Linked DNA regions of Homo sapiens. The protein of the gene in region 1 purifies or fractionates together with the protein of each later gene. This does not show direct contact. Each region holds a gene or a part of one and is shown on either strand. Other genes may lie near its edges.

Region 1 (5,526 bases):
GTGATCTTGGCTCACTGCAACCTCTGCTTCCTGGGTTCAAGCGATTCTCCTGCCTCAGCCTCCTAGGTAGCTAGGATTACAGGTGCACACCACCACGCCCAGCTAATTTTTGTATTTTTAGTAGAGATGGGGTTTCACCATGTTGGTCAGGCTGGTCTCGAATTCCTGACCTCATGATCCACCTGCCTCGGCCTCCCAAAGTGCTGGGATTACAGGCGTGAGCCACCACCGTGCCCGGCCAAAAATTAGTATTTTATAAAAGAAGTCACCATAGAATTTTAGTTAACTTTTTCAGTGTCTTTAACATGATTTAGCTTTAAAAAAAGATTTACATGCAGCTTTCCTGAAATTCATGAATTATATAAAATGCATGTGAAATATACTTGAATGTGATTTTTTTTTTTGAGACAGGGTCTCACTGTGTTGCCCAGGCTAGAGTGCAGTGGCATGATCATAGCTCACTGCAGCCTCAACCGACTGAGCTCAGGTGATCTTCCCACCTCAGCCTCCCAGGTATCTGGGACTGTTAAAAGAGAGTGCTACCACACCCGGCTAATTTTGGTGTTTTTGTAGAGATGGAGTTTTTGCTATGTTGCTCAGGCTGGTCTTGAACTCCTGGACTCAAGTGATCCACCTGCCTCAGCCTCCCAAAGTGTTGAGATTACAGGCGTGAGCCACTAAGCCCAGCCGCTGAATGTATTTTAACAAAAACAAACAAAAAAAAATAAAGTTGACAAATAGTTTAAAAAATACATATATATACACACACACACATATATATATCCTAGTCAAAATTGAGCTTACCTGAAACTTAAAGAGAATCAAATAAATAAAAAGTAAGTTTAATTTTCATCTTTCCCCCTTTCCCCACAGTGAGGTATGTACTAGGATAGTTAAATTAACGAAAAGTATCTGATAAGGAATAAGTACTTGGACATTACTAATTTAGGAGGTGACCAACATGCAAGAGGCAAAAAAAAAAAAAAAAAAAGTAGAACAGAGAGCCCAGATGGTCAAAGAGAGGCAGCTCTGCTCTGCAGCTCCCACCAAGAAGGAAGAAAACTGTGAGTCAACTCTGCATCTTCAGTTGAGATACTGAAGTTCTCTTATTGGGACTGCTAGGTGGCTGGCATGACCCACGGAGAGCAAGCAAACAGGGTGGAGCAAGATCCCATCCAGGAACTGCACGCAGCAAAGTGAACTCCCTCGTCCAGCCAAGGGAGATGGTGAAGGATTTTGCTTCCCCTCCCTGAAAACCAGGCTTTTCCCACAGATCCTTGCAACTTGTAGATCAGGAGGTTCCCTCCTGAGCCAATGCTACCAGAGCTTTGGGTCCCAAGCACAAATCTCTGCTTGGGTGGGCAGCCGCTTTGAGCAGGCACTGAGACACTGGAGTATTTGCATACTCCGGCTCTGGGAACTCCCGTGAGGCAGGAGATCTGTCCACTCTCATGGGGAGGGGGCTGAAGCCAGGGAGCCAAGCAGCCTTGCTCTCACAGAACTCTATAAGCTAAAACCCACTGGCTTGGAATCCTCCCCCACCAGCTAGAAACTGCCTAAGACGACTGAGTTCTGGAAGTGGGGAAGGAGAGGGGGGAGAAGGGAGGGGAGGCCGCCATCACTGCGGCTTCAATTGGCCACTTTCCCTTGCTGCTAGCGCCGGCGAGATGGGGTGGAACCCAGATTCACTCCTCTTCACTGGACAGGGCCTCCCTGTGGGAATCTCAGCATCCCCAGCCAGGGGTTTATGGACAAAACGCTGATAACCCCAAGAGGAGCCCCTAGGAGGAAGGATGGCTGAAGTATCATGGATCAGTGATCTTAGTCTTCTCTGCCTGCTGGCTCTGGAGAGTCAAGGCAGTCCAGATGAGGGGGATTCCCCCCAGTGTAGCACACCCACCCTGTCAAGGGGCAGACAGACTGCTTATTTAAGTGGTTCTCTGACCCCGCTCCTTCTGACTGAGACCTCCCAACAGGAGTCTCCAGACACTTCATACAGGAGCATTCCGGCTAGCATCAGGCCAGTGCCCCTCTGGGACAGAGCTCCCAGAGGAAGGAGCAGGCTGCCATCTTTGCTGGTCTGCAGCCTCCACTGGTGATATCTCCTGGAAGACGAGAGACCCAGGCGAATAGGGTCTAGAGTGGACCCCAGGCAAACTGCAGCAGCTCTGCAGAAGAGGGGCCTGACTACTAAAGAAAAACAGAATGCAACAACATCAACAAAAAAGACACCACAAAAACCTCATCCAAAAGTCAGCAGACTCAAAGATCAAAGGTAGATAAACCCATGAAGATGAGAAAGAATGCAAGGATACGGAAAACTCAGAAAGCCAGAGTGCCTCTTCTCCTCCAAAAGATTGCAACATGTCTCTAGCAAGGGCACAGAACTGGGCTGAGGCTGAGATGGATGAATGTCAATCATCCATCCAAGATGGGAAATAACGAACTTCACCAAGCTAAGGGAATATGTTCTAACTCACTGCAAAGAAGCTAAGAACCATAATAAAACATTATAGGAGCTGTTAAACAGAATAACCAGTTTGGAGAGGAACGTAAATGATCTGATGGAGCTGAAAAACATGAGAACTTTATAATGGAAACACAAGTATCCATAGCCAAATAGACTAAGTGGAAGAAAGGATATCAGAGTTTGAAGACTATCTTGCTGAAATAAGGCAGGCAGACAAGATTAGAGAAAAAAGAATGAAAAGGAATGAATGAAACCTCTGAGAACTATGGGATTATGTTAAAAGACTGAACCTACGACTGGTAGATATACCTGAAAGAGACAGAAGAATGGAACCAAGTTGGAAAACACACTTCTGGATATCATCCAGGAAAACTTCCCCAACCTAGCAAGACAGGCCAACATTCAAATTCAGGAAATCCAGAGAACCCCAATACAATACTCCATGAGATCAACCCCAAGACACATAATCATCAGATTCTCCAAGACTGAAATGAAGGAAAAAATGTTAAGGGCAGTCAGAGAGATAGGCCAGGTCACTTATAAAGGGAAGCCCATCAGACTAACAGCAGACCTCTCAGCAGAAACCTTATAAGCTGGAAGAGGTTGGGGGCCAATTTTCAACATTCTTAAAGGAAAGAATTTCCAACCTAGAATTTCATATCTGGCTGAACTAAGCTTCATAAGTGAAGGAGAAATAAAATCTTTTTCAGACAAGCAAATGCTGAGGGAATTCGTCACCACCAGGCCTGCCTTGCAAGTGCTCCTGAAGGAAGCACTCAATATGGAAAGGAAAAACTGTTACCAGCCGCTACAAAAAACACATTGAAATACACAGATCAGTAACACTATGAAGCAAAAACATAAACAAGTCTGCAAAATAATCAACTAGCATCATGATGTCAGGATAAAATTCACACATAACAATATTAACCTTAAATGTAAATGCACTAAATGCCCCAAATAAAAGACGCAGAGTGGCAAGCTGGATAGAGTCAAACTCTATCAGTGTGCTGTATTCAAGAGACCCATCTCACATGCAAGGACACACATAGACTCAAAATAAAAGGATGAAGGAAAATCTACCAAGCAAAAGGAAAACAGAAAAAGGAGAGGCTGCAATCCTAGTTTCTGACAAAGACTTTAAACGAATAAAGATTAAAAAAAAGACAAAGGCATTACATACTGGTAAAGGGGTCAATTCAACAAGAAGAGCTAACTATCCTAAATATATATGCACCTAATATAGGAGCACTCAGATTCATAAAACAAGTTCTTAGAGACCCAAAAAGAGACTTAGATTTCCACACAATAATAGTGGGAGACTTTAACACCCCACTGTCAATATTAGATCATCGAGACAGAAAATTAACAAAGTTATTCAGGACTTGACCTCAGCTCTGGATCAAGTGGGACCTGATAAATATCTAGACATCTTTCCACCCCCAAACAACAGAATATATATTCTTCTCAGTGCCACATGGTACTTACTCTAAAATTGATCACACAATTAGAAGTAAAGCACTCCTCAGCAAATGCTAAAGAACTGAAGTAATAACAAACAGTCTCTCAGATCACAGCGCAATCAAATTGGAACTCAAGAGTAAGAAAGTCACTCAAAACCACAAAACTACGTGGAAATTGAACAACCTGCTCCTGAATGACTCCTGGGTAAATAATGAAATTAAGAGAGAAATCAAGAAGTTCTTTGAAACCAATGAAAACAAAGAGACAATGTACCAGAATCTCTGGGGCATAGCTAAAGCAGTGTTAAGAGGGAAATTTATAGCACTAAATGCCCACATCAAAAAGCTAGAAAGATCTCAAATCGACACCCTAGTATCACAACTAAAAGAACTAGTGAACCAAGAGCAAACAAACCCAAAAGCCAGCAGAAGACAAAAAGTAACCAAAATCAGAGTGGAAATGAAGGAGCTAGAGACATGAAAAACCCTTCAAAAAATAAATGAATCCAGGGGCTGCTTTTTTTTGAAAATATTAACAAAATAGACTATTAGCTAGACTAATAAAGAAGAAAAGAGAGAAGAACCAAATAGACACAATAAAAAATGATAAAGGGGATATTACCACTGATCCCATGGAAATATAAACAACCATCAGACAATACTATAACAGCTCGGTGCAAATAAACTCGAAAATCTAGAAGAAATGGATAAATTCCTGGACACATACACCCTCCCAAGACTGAACCAGGAAGAAGTTGAATCACTGAATAGACCAATAACAAGTTCTGAAATTGAGGCAGTAATTAATAGGCTACCAACCAAAAAAAGCCCAGGACCAGATGGATCTACAGCTGAATTCTGCCAGAAATACAAAAAGAAGCTGATACCACTTCTTCTGAAACTATTCCAAACAAATGAAAAGGAGAGACTCCTCCCTAACTCATTCTATAAGGCCAGCATCATCCTGATATCAAAACCTGGCAGAGATACAACAAAAAAAGAAAACTTCAGACCAATATCCCTGATGAACATCAATGTAAAAATTCTCAATAAAACACTGGCAAACTGAATCCAGCAGCACATCAAAAAGCTTATCCACCACGATCAAGTTGGCTTCATTCCCGGGATGTGAGGCTGGTTCAACATATGCAAATCAATAAACTTAATTCATCACACAAACAGAACTAAAGACAAAGACCACATGATTAACTCAATAGATGCAGAAAACACCTTCAATAAAATTCAACATCCTTTCATGTTAAAAACTCTCAATAAACTAGGTATTGAAGGAACATACTTCAAAATAATAAGAGCCATTTATGACAGACTCACAGCCAATATCATACCGAATGGGCAAAAGCTGGAAGCACTCCCCTTGAAAACCAGCACAAGACAAGGATGACCTCTCTCACCACTATTCAACATAGTATTGGAAGTCCTGGCCAGGGCAATCAGGCAAGAGAAAGAAATAAAGGGTATTCAAAGAAGAAGAGAGGAAGTCAAAATGTCTTTGTTTGCAGAGGACATTATCCTATATCTAGAAAACCCCATTGTCTCAGCCCAAAAGCTTCTTAAGCTGATAAGCAACTTCAG
Region 2 (3,832 bases), on another chromosome or scaffold:
TAATCAGTGAAACAAGATAAATTAAACACAAATTTAGTAATTATCCCTGGAGATATAAACTCACACTTCCATGTGTAAACTGCCATTGTAAGGCCAGCTTTTTATTTTGTTTATTCATTTTTTACTTTTTTTAGAGATGGAGTCTCACCCTGTTGCCCAGGCTGTCTCGAATTTGTGGGCTCAAGCTATCCACCCACTTGGCCTTCCAAAGTGCCAGGATTACAGGCATCAGTCACCATGCCTGGCCAGTAGACCAACGTTTTAAAGATCATTTTAGCTGGGCGCGGTGGCTCATGCCTGTACTTTGGGAGTCCAAGGTGGGCGGATAGCTCGAGTTCGGGACCAGCCTGGGCAACACAGGGAAACCCTGTCTCTACAAAAAAATATAAAAAGTAGCCGAACATGGTAGCGCACGCCAGTAGTTCCAGCTAGTCAAGAGGCTGAGGTGGAAGGATCACTTGAGCCTGGAAAGTTGCTACAGTGAGCCATGATCATGCCACTGCACTCCAGCCTGGGAAACAGAGTGAGACCCTGTCTTTAAAAAAAAATAGAAATCATTTGAAAAAGTAATAAAGTGGTTAAGTTGCAGTGACCACAAATATATACCAACTGGAAACACTGCAAAAAAAAAATTCTAGGCTCACGTCTGTAATCCCAACACTTTGGTAGGCCAAGGCAGGCCTGTGAGGTCAAGGCTACAGTGAGTGGTGATTGCATCACCGCACTCCAGCCTGGGCGACAAAGTGAGACCCTTTCTTAAAAAAAAAGTCTAATGTTATGCAAGTGGATACTTGTAACTTGGAATAAACTGTTCAGTGGTAACACCTTATTCATATTCAAAAACGATGTATCTCAAGAACTGAACATGTGGTCCGGAAATCCACATTGGCTGACTCAAAAAGTGGCTCCAGTGATGATAAAAATAGTGAAGTCAAAGATGCATGTGAAGAGTCTGAAAAGAAACATTTTATAAATAAGAAGAGGAGGAAAACCAGCATTTCTAAATTAGTGTTACTTTATAAAGTAGGTGATTTTAAGTAGGTATATGGACCCAAATTTAAATGTAAATTTTGTAAGCAGGTATTTTTCACTTATATACCTAAAAGTACATGTATTTTCAACTTGACCAAAAACAACCTTTTGGACTTTTTAATGGGGAAATTTTGATATGCAGGATTACTTTACACTTGGGCAATATGGTATATGCTGAATTTCAATAAAATAAAATGGATTCAGAAAGCTAGCCTACTGACCACCTAACCAAGCAGAGCTCCAGTCCCTTCTATCAGAGGCATAAAAAGTTGGGAAGTTTTATCATATTTAGTGATTTGTTCCACCTCCATTTACTAATATTTTGGATCCTATAAGCTGAAATAAGTCAACAGCAGGTCAGGATTCTGTTCCGCTGGTCCCTCCTTAGGATATGTGGTGGCCCACTGCCCGAACCTGAAGCCAGCACATCACCTGCCTCTTAATACCCTGATAGGGGCCCACCCGCCCAGCTCACCTCATTTCCTACCACATCCAACCTGCACCCTCCGTTCCTGGTAAGCCATCTTAACGCCCCCAGTCAAGCCTGAGTCTTCCCTCAAAACAGCTCTCCCTCCTTGAATGGCTGCCCCAAACTCTATTTTTTACAGCCCACCCAGTTCCACGTTCTCCATGAAGTCATCCTGACCACCTCAGCCCACACAGATGGCTTTTCAACTCCCCAAAATCCTCGTGCAAAGCAGTTATAATTTAGCACTCTGTGACTGCCTATAGCATATTCTTCTTATTTTTTTCTTTTTTGAGATGGAGTCTTGCTCTGTCACCCAGGCTTGAGTGCAATGGTGCAATCTCGGCTCACTGCAACCTCCGCCTCCCAGGTTAAAGAGATTCACCTGCCTCAGTGTCCTGAGTAGCTGGTATTACAGGTGCACACCACCACGCCTAGCTAATTTTTGTATTTTTTTAGTAGAGATGAGGTTTCACCATGTTGGCTAGGCTGGTCTCAAACTCCTGACCTCCAGTGATCCGCCAGCCTCAGCCTCCCAAAGTGCTGGGATTACAGGAGTGAGCCACCGCACTCGGCCTTACAGCATATTCTTTTTTATCTCTCTAAGATAAAAGAATTTTGAGGGCAGGGATCAAGACTAATAATTCTCTTATATTCCCCTCAGAGTTCAAGTCACTTCATTGACAATGAACCATGCCAATGGTTCAATGACACCATGCCATTTAAAGTGGAGGACGCGTTTGCCTCTGTTCAAAGACAAACTCAAAGAAAAACAGTAGTATCTTTTGTAAACACCTGTTTTTGGCAAGGCTGCTACCTCTGAGACTATCAGTATTAACCTACTGGCCTGAATCAGAGTGTCTGCAATGGGATGATTCCAGATGGCACAATAAGGAAGGCAGGCACTAACAATACAACCATGTCTTGTTCTCTAGTGTCATGAAAGGCCCTCCCTGCATCTGCATTAACAAAACAGCTTAGCAAGGTAGAGACCTTCATAAAAATATCCAGAGCTGACCATTTCTCATTACCTCCACTACCGTCACTGTGAGCTAAGCCACCGTCACCTCTCTCCCAGGATACTGCAATAGCCTCCTAACTGGTTTCCCTGTATCCACCCTCACTCCCCACCATCTACTCTTGACAGTAACCTAAATGAGCCTGTTAAAATGCTAGTCAGACTGTGTCACTCCCCTGCTCAAAACTCTCTGATCATGGATCAGTCTAAGTCCTGGCAGGAAACAGATGGCACAAAGTGGGTGATTTGAGGAGAGTTTATAAAGGAACTATTTACAAAGATGTGGGCAGGTGTAGGGAAACCACAAGAGAAAATGCAGTATCTGGAGCTGGTAAATCAGGGGTACCTGAACTCCTCATAGACCTGAAGGTGTGAAGGATGGAGAGGGAGGGAGACAAAGAGCTCCGCAGAGAAGGCACATGACAGGAAATGTGACCTTAAGTCTAAGGAAACCCCACCCCACACAAGCCTGCAGGAGGGAAGAAATACAGTGGTCTCATTCTTCTCCTTCTCGGTCACCCCCAGCAATACTTCCCATGGCCCGCAGCCATAAAGCAAGGCAACCTGTCAGTGCAGGGCCCCCTCCTGGGGCACATCTACAGAGCAGGCTAGAAAAGGGCCAAGTGAATCTGGGGCAGTAAATGGCAGGTATACAGCCAAGTGGCTCTCCATCTCAGTCAGGGTATTTTAAAGTACTTCCAAAGGCCAATGAGACCCTACATGATCCGACCCATCTCCTACTCTCTGGTTTGCTAAGCCCCCTGCTCACCTGGCATTCTGCTGCCTTGGTCCTTTGTGCTTGCTGCTTTCTCTGCCCAGAATACTCTTGCACCAGATCCATGATGGCTTCCTCCCTCATCTGAGACTTCAGGTCTCAGATCACATGTGTTGTCACCAGAGGGTTCCCCTTAACACCTTATATGAAGACCTCCCCTGCTCCCACCCCACCCATTCCTGACACACCCTATCCCCTCTATCCCAAGGTGTTACTCTCCACAGCGTTTCTAATTAACATTTTATATTGAGATAGCTATAGATATTAACTCTTTTAATTGACTGCCTCATTGGCCTAGAAACAGTTTCATAAAGGCATCAACTTGGCCTCTTTTGTTTAACAACTTATGCCGAGTGTCTAGAACAGTGCCTGGCACGTAGAAGGCGCTCAAGTATTTGCTGAATGAATGAGAATCAACGAATGGAACAGACGACTCACAGCTAAGGACTCCTTCCACTATTTATAGGTTTAACTCCTATTACCAAATTATTGCTTAACAAATAAACCGAGTCTTCTGATAATCAGATAGGAAGCAGGTAAC

What was found.
Region 2: the proteins of INTU (region 1) and FNTB purify together in Homo sapiens (affinity purification with mass spectrometry, with the first as the bait; one large-scale study listed by BioGRID). This does not show direct contact.

Annotation. Positions count from the first base shown.
Region 1 is NC_000004.12:127,718,851-127,724,376, reverse strand, and holds part of INTU (protein inturned), read right to left. Parts: 3' UTR 1-5,526. UniProt on the Homo sapiens protein: Plays a key role in ciliogenesis and embryonic development.
Region 2 is NC_000014.9:64,989,563-64,993,394, reverse strand, and holds part of FNTB (protein farnesyltransferase subunit beta), read right to left. Parts: intron 1-3,832. UniProt on the Homo sapiens protein: Essential subunit of the farnesyltransferase complex. Catalyzes the transfer of a farnesyl moiety from farnesyl diphosphate to a cysteine at the fourth position from the C-terminus of several proteins having the C-terminal sequence Cys-aliphatic-aliphatic-X.